Regions from separate parts of the Homo sapiens genome. Here region 1 is linked to region 2. The links come from fine-mapping of genetic effects on gene expression. A gene starts in region 2. The other region holds a variant in brackets. All regions are shown on one strand. Distances are from middle to middle.

What was found. PIP is the estimated chance that this variant, and not a neighbour inherited with it, causes the effect.
Region 1: its variant is the best candidate, but not a certain one, in a credible set for the expression of CBX2 in whole blood (TOPMed, PIP 0.63).

What each region holds. Positions count from the first base shown.
Region 1 is chr17:78,875,401-78,880,764 of GRCh38, forward strand. All of the region lies in intron 1 of TIMP2 (TIMP metallopeptidase inhibitor 2), which reads right to left. Among named protein-coding and RNA genes, the nearest start is that of CEP295NL, 25 kb to the right of the region's middle. RefSeq lists enhancers at 3,473-4,366, 4,367-5,258. The variant C/G (reference allele first, on the strand shown) is at 2,663.
Region 2 is chr17:79,775,848-79,781,164 of GRCh38, forward strand. It overlaps CBX2 (chromobox 2), which reads left to right and starts at 2,301. Exons shown (of 5, transcript NM_005189.3): 1 at 2,301-2,460; 2 at 2,537-2,580; 3 at 3,515-3,580. The coding sequence starts at 2,389. RefSeq lists silencers at 2,106-2,485, 2,496-2,565 and an enhancer at 2,961-3,554.

The DNA of each region.
Region 1 (5,364 bases), 900 kb before region 2:
CTGAGGTTGCTGACAGGCCATGCAACACAGGGCTTTCTCCTAGCAATTAAGCCAGGATTCTGTTCCACTCCTGGTAACCTGAGGACAAGCAGATCAGTAGTTCATGCTGTCACTTGGGCAGGGTTGGGTAGAGCCCTCCCTTTCTTAATTTCAAGGCCATTAGTTGGTGACATGGTCTGTTTTAATGGCTTTAAAAGCTTTGCCCTCCCAAACTCAGCTCTTCAGGGTCACTCTGGGTAAGTGTTATGTTACGGTGGATATGAGCAAAACAGAGAGGTAAGGAGCAGACCACGCCAGGCTCCAGGCAGCCTCCTAGCCCCAGCCCCAGCCCCACCCCACGTGGTCGGCTCAAATCTCTTAGAACCCCTTAGGCAGGGCTGTCTCTTCCCACAGGGGCAAGGAGGCTCAGGCGTGTGGGTGCTCCATCTGTGTCCATCCCCCTGGGCCCCACCAATGCTCTCTGGATCCCAGGCTGGCATCAGAGTCCCACACCACAGCCCCACTGCCTCGCCTGGGCACAAACCCCTTTCTTCTTTCTTCTTCTGTTGGAGCTGAGTCATGACTGGCCAAGGCCACAGGTTCCTGTTTCCCAGGCTAATCCATGCCTCATCCTGAAAAGCCACATCTAGGAAATGTCTCCCGGCAGGCCACTCCAGAACAGACGGCTTTGCCCTGACGGCCCCCTATTTCCAGTGCCCTCCTAACCATCCTCTCATCCACCGCAACCAGCTGTCTTTTTTTATTCACGTTCGTTTCTGCTCAAACATCATCCTTGGCTGCCCCCTGCCCTCCCCTAAAATATGAGCGCCTTTGCAACCTGAAGTCAGCCAGGGGCCTCAGCTGCTGTGCCCAACACCCCCCACCCATGCTCCCACTATTCTACCACTTCATAATACTTGTCTGCCCTGAACACGCCCAGGTGCATCCACACCTCTGAACAGACAAGTTTCTTTCTTTCTTTTTTTTTTAGACAGAGTCTTGCTCTGTCATCCCCACCCCTGCTAGGCTGGAGTGCAGTGGCGCAATCTCAGCCATCTCCCAGGTTCAAATGACTCTCCTGCCTTAGCTTCCCAGGTAGCTGGGATTACAGGTGGGCACCACCATGCCTGGCTAATTACCATATATATTTTTTTGAGACGGAGTTTCACTTTTGTCACCCAGGCTGGAGTGCAATGGCTTGATCTCAGCTCACTGCAACCTCCACCTCCCAGGTTCAAGCAATTCTCCTGCCTCAGCCTCCTGAGTAGCTGGGGTTACAGGTAACTGCCACCTTGCCAGGCTAATTTTTTTTTTTTTTGGTATTTTTAGTAGAGACAGGGTTTTAGCATGTTGGCCAGGCTGGTCTCGAACTCCTGACCTCAAGTGATCCGCCCACTTTGGCCTCCCAAAGTGCTGGGATTACAGGTGTGAGCCACCACACCCAGCCTGAACAGGCAAGTTTCTTCCGCCCCAAATGCCATCTCCCCTCTCTGCCTGGAGAACTTTTCTTCATTCTTCAAGACCCAGCTAAAATAGCCCTTTTCTGTCTTCCTCTGGGAAATCCTGTCCTTCTGCAGCACTTGGTATATTCCCCATCTCTTTTCCATCCTGCTGTCAGTTCCTGCACACCTGTCTGCTCAGGGCCCTGGGAGGTCCTAACAGGTTGAGGCTAGATTCTGACTGCAGAACAGTTGGTGCTCACTAACTCTTTGCCAGATGGAGCTGAGATGACGCTGACAACTTTGGGCTGGTGGCCCAGGTGCAGTTTGTCCTTGGCTCTCTTGCTCCCTGCCTAATCTATATACCTTACGACAATGCTGCACCAAAAATGTTTATGCAAATTAGTCAATGTGCCAGATTAACTTGGTCAAAGTTTGCTCTTCATGTAGCAGAGTCACCAGCTCACAAGCAAACCAGGGCCAGGCACGGTGGCTCACTCCTATAATCCCAGCACTTCGGGAGGCCGAGGCGGGCGGATCACTTGAGGTCAGGAGTTTGAGACCAGCCTAGCCAACATGGTGAAACCCCATCTCTACAAAAAATACAAAAATCCCAGCCACTTGGGAGGCTGAGGCAGGAGAATCGCTTGAACCCAGGAGGTGAAAGTTGCAGTGAGCTGAGATCATGCCACTGCACTCCAGCCTGGGCAACAGAGTGAGACTCCGTCTTTTAAAAAAAGAAAAGAAAGAAAAGGAAAAAAAGCAAGCCAGCAGAATCCAAAGGAATCAACAGTTCCAGTAGGAGCAGCAAGCCGGCCTTTATTACAGTCTGCTGAATTCTGTATGTTATTTTGGAAATTTCTGGAGCTGCTTTTCTTTTCTTTCTTTCTTTTTTTTTTTTTTGAGATGGAGTCTAGCTCTGTCATCCAGGCTGGAGTGCAATGGTGCAATCTTGGCCCACTGCAACCTCCGCCTCCTGGGTTCAAGCAATTCTCCTGCCTCAGCCTCCCAAGTAGCTGGGATTACAGGCACGCGCCACCATGCCCGGCTAATTTTTTGTATTTATTTTAGTAGAGACGGGGTTTCACCATGCTGGCCAGGATGGTCTTGAACTCCTGACCTCGTGATCCGCCTGCCTCGGCCTCCCAACGTGCTGGGATTACAGGCATGAGCTACCGCGCCCGGCCTTGGAGCTGCCTTTCAATGGTCCACTAAGCCGCACAATGCTTAACGCACAATAGGCA[C/G]TCAACAAGCATGTCACTGGAGTTCAGAAAATAAGCAAAGATTACTTCAAAACGGCCAAAATGTTGCATCCTACCATGGGCATTGAGGTTCACATGCTGTTCTCTTACAAAAACGCCTAAGGCTCCCAGGTGGCAGCTGGGCACTTATTTGAAGGAGGCAGCAAGAGACAGAGATCCTGCATTCACCCCTGGATGGCTGCGTGATCTTTGAGAAGCTCCTTGACTTCACTGAGCCACAGTTGTTCACACCTAAGACAGAGACGATGACAACAGTCTTGACACTTCACAAGGTCGTGGTGACTGTTAGAGGGGCTGGTGTGGAGGCTGCGGTGCCCGGGAACTAATGCGTGTACAGTTCAGGACCACGAGCATCGCATAGACAAGCAGGGCGAATTCTCCCGCTCCCGTGGGTGAGGGATTGGGACGGTGGCATCATGCCACTCAGGTACACAGACCCGGTCCTGGTCAGCAGGCCACAGACTCTCGATTTGATGCAGCTTCCCAGCGTGCTAGCTTTGCCTGGGGGCTGCAGATTACACACTTTCCTTCTTTAAAGTGTCAGAAAAGAGGAGGCTGGTCAAATCAAGGGTCCAGGGTAGCCACGTGGGGTTAGGACTAGAAAGTGAACTGGCGAGGAGGCCGCCAGATGCCTGCAGGGAAGTGGGGGTGAGGGGCAGGGAAGTGGGGGTGAGGGGCCTGGAGGAGCAGAGCCTGAGGGCATCTCCATCTCCCCTGGGCTGCTTTAGTCTGCCCCTGGGGAACAGAATTCAGATTCTTCAGGGTCCCTTTAAATTGGGGGTGGGCACCTCCTCCCCCACTTTGCAAAATGAGAAATTACATGAAAGAAGGAAAATGGGAATCAAGAGAGGCAAAGAAGGACCAGTTCCACGGCAACCTTCCCCAAAGCACCAGCACGCCGCAGACATGAAGGAGAGGGGCCAGCTGACAGCTCTGATCGGTGCACACCAGTTGGCATAGCGGGATCTGCACCGCTGACCTGCTCAGAGCAGCGGGTACCTGTCGGGGGTTGTTGCCCAGAGGTGACAGCAGGTGAAGAGAGGGTACAGGGTGAATCCTGCATACAGCAGGCCTTGCCTGGGAGGAGCATCCAATCCAGGCAAGATGACAGACGATGGATAGGAACACAGAGAAGGAGAGTTTCCAATGCCCAGTGGTGGACAGAGGAGGAGGGAGAGAGAGCTCTCCGGAATACATTTCCATGCCAATGGCAATGGTCCGCACTCTGAGCTCCAGGATGGACCACCAGTTCTGTAGGGGAAAGCAGGCCACTTCAAAAGAGGGAGGGCCTCTCCGAGTCCCAGGCCATGTGAAGAACAGGGCTGGGGAAAGCGAAGAGACATAAGGAATCTGGGAAGAAATGAAAATTGTGGCACAGACACGTTTACTGAACACCTACTGGGTGCTGGGCCTGGTGTTAGGCACTGGGGTGGGTGTCAGCCCATCTCCTGTCCATGCCCCCGAGAGGGGCTGCTCTGCTCCTCTGCCCCTTCCCCAAGGAGCCAGAGGCAGCTGCGAGAGGGGGAGTCTTTATAAAGACTCTCGTTCTAACTGCCCTGAGCCCAGAAACCACGGCCTCTCCCTGGGCGTCTCAGATTTCGTTTTTCCTTCTTTCCCTTCTGCTGTGAACACAACATCTGGGTTTGAGATCAAGGGTGATACACTGGCTGATGAATTCACCGCCAGATGCCGGCTACTGGAATGTACAACCGTCGGCTGAATTCAAAGCACACGCAACTGCAGGGTCCCCACCCCCACCCCTCCAGCCCAGGACACCATATGATGTCACTTCCCCCCTGCAAAAACAATCCCGAGCGCACCCGCCAGAGTGGGGACGGAAAAGAACCGGGTGGGCGGAAAACCAAGGTCGCGGGAGACGATCCAAAGAGGATGGGCTACGGTCAGACTTCGACAGTCACAACCGCCCCTGGAAAACCATCAGAGGCCGGACCGGCTGCTGCTGCTCTCGGAGGGGAGCAGACAGTGAAGGGGGCTTGCTGGAGAACCTGGTGTCACCAGCATGTGCCAGGGCCAAGGGCTGGCCGGAGGGGCGGCACTCTCCACAGACTCCAACCACGCCAGCCCCAGGCAGAGACGCCACGGCTTCTGTGGCACGGTCCTCCCTTGTTCTCTCTCCTCGGTGTCCCCTCTGCTGCCATCAACACGTGGGTCCTGCGTCCTCACGTCCCCTTCATACACCCACCAACATCTTTCCAATCCTCCTGTGTCCACAGAAGTACTATGGAAGTTCCTGCGGAAAATAAGAACAAGCCATGCCCACAATTGGGGGAGGGAGACAGACCCCAAAAGAAAATTGCCTCGAAAGGCCGGGTGCAGTGGCTCACACTTGTAATCCCAGCACTTGGGAGGCCAAGGTGGATGGGTTGCTTGAAGCTAGGAGTTCAAGACCAGCCTGAGCAACATAGCAATACCTCATCTATAAAAAACAAAATACAAAAAACAAAAACAAAAAAAAACAAAAATTAGCTGGGCGTGGTGGCATCTGCCTATAGTCCCAGCTACTCAGGAGAATTGTATGAACTAGATGTTCAAGGCTGCAGTGAGCTATGAATGCACCACTGCACCTCGGTCCTGGGTGAAAGAACCAGACCCTGCCTTTGAAAGAAAAAGAAAATTGCCTGTAAGAAATGTACTTATTCCACACTCATTGAATTCTCTTTATT
Region 2 (5,317 bases):
ACGCAGTGGAGGGAGGCTCTGTCCATCCACTTCCATCACCCACAGATGGAGCTGCTGCTACGGTCTTATACTACTGGATATCTAGTAGTGCCCACATGATAGTACATACTAACTATCTGTCGAATGAATAATACAATAATTAGTTTTAACTTGTCTTAATAATTCTTAAAATGTGACAGTCAAAACGGAAGACGTCCGCTTGTTTTACACAGTTGGATTAGCTGGGGGTTATTCTTCCCTTCTGCCTATTCCCAGCTTTGTTTTTAGGGAACGTGCCACAGATTTTGGATCACACGTTCACAGAATGTATCTGATTATTTCATTCTGGCCAAATCTGTCATATTTGTTTCTCCAAATGAATTATCTAAATATTATTTTACCCAAACTGTTTGCAGTTGGGTAGATGATGTACATGTTAAACCTTCCTGGACGCTGATTTATTTTTTTCAATGTGTTAGTATCAAATTCTAGCAAATTTATTTCTTAAGCAAAGAAATCATTCCCTTTTCAAAGCCTTCTTTTCTTTAAAAAGAAATCAAGCAAGTATCCCAGCATACCATGAGTCAAAGAGGAAACTGGAAACTTCCAGGGCAAAATCTTAGACCCAAGATGAATTCTGCAAGGAAACGTGATGTGAAACTGATCCAGCTATTTGTAGGATTACAATAAATACACCTTTGCCCTCAACTCCACAATTTACTGCCAAGCTGCACAAGACAGGGATACAAAAGGAGCCGGCGGAGACACTGTTAGCGGATCCCTTCACTCCAGAGGCCAGTTTTATCCCAACACAAGGATTCTTTACTGCCTCTGCCCCTGAGTAAACAAACACCTTCCCCCCAAGGACATTTCCCTTTCTCCTGCCCTCTTTGCAAACAACATCTGAATTTGCACGTACTCTCCAGGAAATCAAATGAATGTAACCTATCTAACCAAAGAAACTGAAGAACACGCCATAAATTGAAAGATCGGTTCCTACAGTTCAGTATTTTCTCCAGTAGGCCTTTCTGTAAAAACAAAAAAACACATTTCTCCTGCAGAACCCTTTATAAATATGGTTTTGATGATCACAATTACATTGAGACAGTCTCCTACAACAAGAAACGACTTTTGGATCTGCTCAACAGAAAGAGAATTTTGCAGCTGTGTTCAAGGAAGCAAGAAAAGCAGAGAGTGAATTTTCATGGAGTTAGACTGCGTTGAGACGAATGAAGCTAAGGCTCAGGTCTCTTTCATTACGTGTTTGACTTGTCCTGATTCAAAATCTAAATAACTTAAAGGGTGATTCTTCATGGAATTCGAATCTTAACACCGGAATAAAAGGGTAGCCTGCTGACGACGATCACAGGGAGGACAAGGGGTCACCCCCACTTTCATAACATGGCCTGACCCTTTTCTGCCGCGGACAATTGATCCGAAGGACGCCGGCTGCCCAGCCCTGGCGGGCCACTACTGACCTAGTCCGAAGTTAGGAACAGCCTTGCAAACCGCCCCCTCCCCCTCCATTTCATCAAAATCGGGGAACAAATTCAGAAAAGGTGCAGCTGGTTTTCTCCCTACACGTGCCCTAAAACTCGGGGGCTGGATCCACTTTTCATAGCTGTTTAATAAGAACTCCGGGCAGTTCGTATTACTTCTTTCTCAGAGTGCTTGGTGGTTTAAGTTAAAGCATTTTCCTCTCTCGCCTTTGGGGGAAAAAGCCTCGGCTGCTGGGGTTTGTGGGCCCCTCCCCCGGACTTCGTCTTCCTTTCCTTCCCCAGCCCCCGACCCGTTTTGCTCTCGTCCAAAACAGAGCGACTCCCCCGCTGCCGAGGAAAAGCCAGTTCAAGAAGCCGGGGGAAGGGTGGGGCCCCGCGTGCCCCGGAGCAGCGCCCCTCGAAGGCGGGGGCAGGAAGCAGCCGCCGCGCCCCGTCCCGCTTCCCTCCCTTCGGGCCAGAACAATGGCTTTTTGCCCGGAAAACGGAGTTGGGAGCAAGGGCGGGCGCGCCCCGGGAATCACGCGGGACTCGGTGGGCGCCCCAGGCCCGAAGTCCCTAGGCACCTCCTCCCCCAGCCAGGGGCCCGCCCGCGCCCCCACCCCCGCCCCCGCCCCCGCCCGGGGCCCCGCGCGGGACCCCCCGCCGGAGCGCGAGGCCCAGCCCGCCGCGGACAATGCGCGCCCCGCCCCGCCCCGCACCCGCCCCCCCTCGCTGATTGGCCCGCACGGGATTTGGGCAGCGCGCGGGGGCGGGCGGCGGGCCGGGGCGCGGGCGCGGAGCGGCGGTGCGCGTGCGCGGGGCGGGCCGGCGCCGGGCGGGGGCGGTGCTTTGTGTGCTGCCGGCGGGGCGCGCGGCGGTCCGGGCGGGTGACTGGCGGCGGGCGCCGCGGTCGGGCTGGCTGCCGGGCAGCATGGAGGAGCTGAGCAGCGTGGGCGAGCAGGTCTTCGCCGCCGAGTGCATCCTGAGCAAGCGGCTCCGCAAGGTGCGTGCGGCCCGCCGGGCCCCCCGCCCGCCGCCCGCTGTCCGTCTGGCTCACGGCCCCTCTTCTCTCCCCGCAGGGCAAGCTGGAGTACCTGGTCAAGTGGCGCGGCTGGTCCTCCAAGTGAGTCCCCCGCGACGCCGCGCCCCCCTCCCGCCCCCTCGCCCGGGGGTGGGGACGTGGAGCCCCTCGGCCGCGCCGTCCGGTGGCCTGGGGGCGCCCGCGGGCAGAGCGGGAAGTTCGCGGGGTCCCCGCGGGCTCCTCCGGCTCTGAGGGGGGCGGGGGCCGCCCGGCCCGAGGTTGCCCTTTGTTTACACGCCCGCGGGTGCAGAGCTGGGCGGCCCCCCGCGCCAGAACCTCCTCGGCTGCCGCGCCGCGCTCCCCCCAACCCCCGTCCCGGCCGGGAGGGAGGCGCGGGATGCAAGCCCCCCTCCTCTTGGCCAGATTCTCCCCGCTGTAACCTGAGCTTGCTATTGATGGATGTAGAGTTTCTTTTTTTTTTTCTTTCTTTTAATGGAAGGGAGGGTGTTTGGCATCCCCGGAAGGGGCTCTCTGCACAGCTGCTCCCGCGGCCCCGTTTCTGCGTCTTCCCGGACCCCGCTCTTTCTTCGCTACCCCTCGAGGTGCCCCGGCCCGCGCGCCACATTGTTCTGGATCTCGGGCTGGGCGCCTGTGCCCCTCCCTGCATGCTGGACCTGCCTTCCCTTCCTCCTCTGGCTCCGGGCCAGGGTTTGGGGGAATCCCTCTCTGCAACTTTGCGTTTTATGGGGGTTTGTTTTTCTCCCAGGCAGAGACTGTGGGAGTCCTCTTGTGGCCTTGTTTTAATTGGGGGGTTGGAGCGGCAGTTTCCCTTTGGGTCTGAGGTTAGAGTGCTGGCTTGGTGGGGGGTGGCCAGCCTCCAAAACCTGGGTTTGGACTTTGAGAAGTGCCATGGTGCTACGGTGCCACTGCCATCGGCCCAAGTCGAGGAGCGGTGAGGGCGAGCCCCCTCGGGCTGCCTTGCAAAGCGGTGATCATCAGCCTGGCGTCTAATGCTGCCCTGTCCTCTGCTTTGCAGACATAACAGCTGGGAGCCGGAGGAGAACATCCTGGACCCGAGGCTGCTCCTGGCCTTCCAGAAGAAGTGAGGACGCTGACAGCACTGGGGAGGGTGTGGGGGAGGGACGGTGGCTGGTTGGAGTCGTGCTGGGCGCTGCTCGCCTGCCGGGAGGCTGGAGCTGGGGCTGTGGTCTGAGGTCCCTTAGCAAGATTGTGTCCAGGGCCATCTCTGTGGCTGGCTGTAAAAGTCCCCAGCCAGCCCCTCTCCCACCTTCTCCTAGCCAGCCTGTATCCATCCCTGAGAAGAACCTAAGTAAGTGCTGCTTTGGTGTTTCCGACAGCCATACTTGCAAAAACCAACTTTTTCAGTTGCTTCAGATAAAGATGTTATAGCTTCTCTTGGCCTTTTCTGCTGAGTAATTTGCACATGGCGCTAACAGAAAACCAGGAGAGCAGGTTTGCCACAGTGACGCAGGTCTGCCCTTCCAGCCCTGCACGCGTGTGCCATCAGGCAAGAAGGCTCAGAGAGGGAGCTGGAACACACAGCACGCAGTTGTGCCTATTGTGATGTCTCTCTCAAGAAAGAAACATTTATTTTGCTCTGGCCTGCAGCATACAGTACCAAGTAGCACCATGAGGCCGGATTGGGCCAGACTTGTTTCTGTAATTCTAGATGTCATTTCTATTTTTAGGTAGGAAGTTTAGGTTAAGAGATAGGCCTCCTTGAGATGTTCAAGGGCAAGGGGTGGTGAGGAGAGGGCAGTGGATGTGCCCACCTGGCATGAAGGGCCAGGGAGTACTGTTCAAGCAATGGCAAGATGGGGGGTGGTTTCACTGACGGCTCCCCCTGGATCCCCTGGCTGGACTTGCCCTGTGGATAGAGGCAGAAGAATTGGTTGCTGGAGTCTTTCCCAGCCAGGGTCAATCTGGACGGTTTGTTCTCTGGTAGCAAAAGGTGCATTCCCTTTTTTCCACTGTAGCGGGACATATTGGGTCTTCCCAGAGGGGTCATGATAATGGGGAAATAGAGTTTTCTGGTGGGGCGAGCAAAAAGAAGAGCCTGTGCTTGCTTAAATCCCTTTGGAAAATCGTAACAGCAACCCATCGTCTTCTGTTAGTTCCTGTCTGGGTGCTGTGAGCCTTGGGGTGGGGGAATGGCTTGGCCCACTTCAGAGGCTGGTGCGCTTCTCTGGATCTAAGACGGTGTCCTAACTGTTGAGAGAGATTGTGGTTTTGGTTAGAGCAGAAACACCTGAGATAAGAAGAGTGTAAAACCCATGGGTGGCTTGGATGACATCGTGGAAGAAAGAAAACAGAGAAGGTGGGACAGCCTTCTCCATCCACCAAAATGTTAGCTCTCTCTGGGCACTAGGAGCTGGCGGTTACCTGCTTGGTATTGGAGGGGGTGGGGGTATGGCCCTTGGCGACGCACAGGATCACAGCAGTCAGTGCACAGGTTAATATTTCAGCGGAGGAGATCCATGCAACACTTCATTGTCCTTTTAGGAGATTTCAGGTTAAGGACCAGCACTTAAGAGTATGAACTTTGCCTGGTACTAATCAGAACTGTGTTGAGGAGGTTGCCTTCCAGGCCCCAATGAGATGATGTTTGCCCAGATAATTACCAGGGCCCCTTTTCTGAAATACAGGCTTTCCCTGGGGGCTGGAGGTTCTGCTAGCACTTCATGACCCTGGAGGTGTGGAGGCTCTTCTGGGGGCGGGGGGGGTACTGCGAGTGGTGCGTGCATTGAGCCTTGCCTGCCTCAGACCTCGGCACCTCTGTCATCTCCCTCAAGAGTAGAGTTTAGGAACAGAGAGGTAT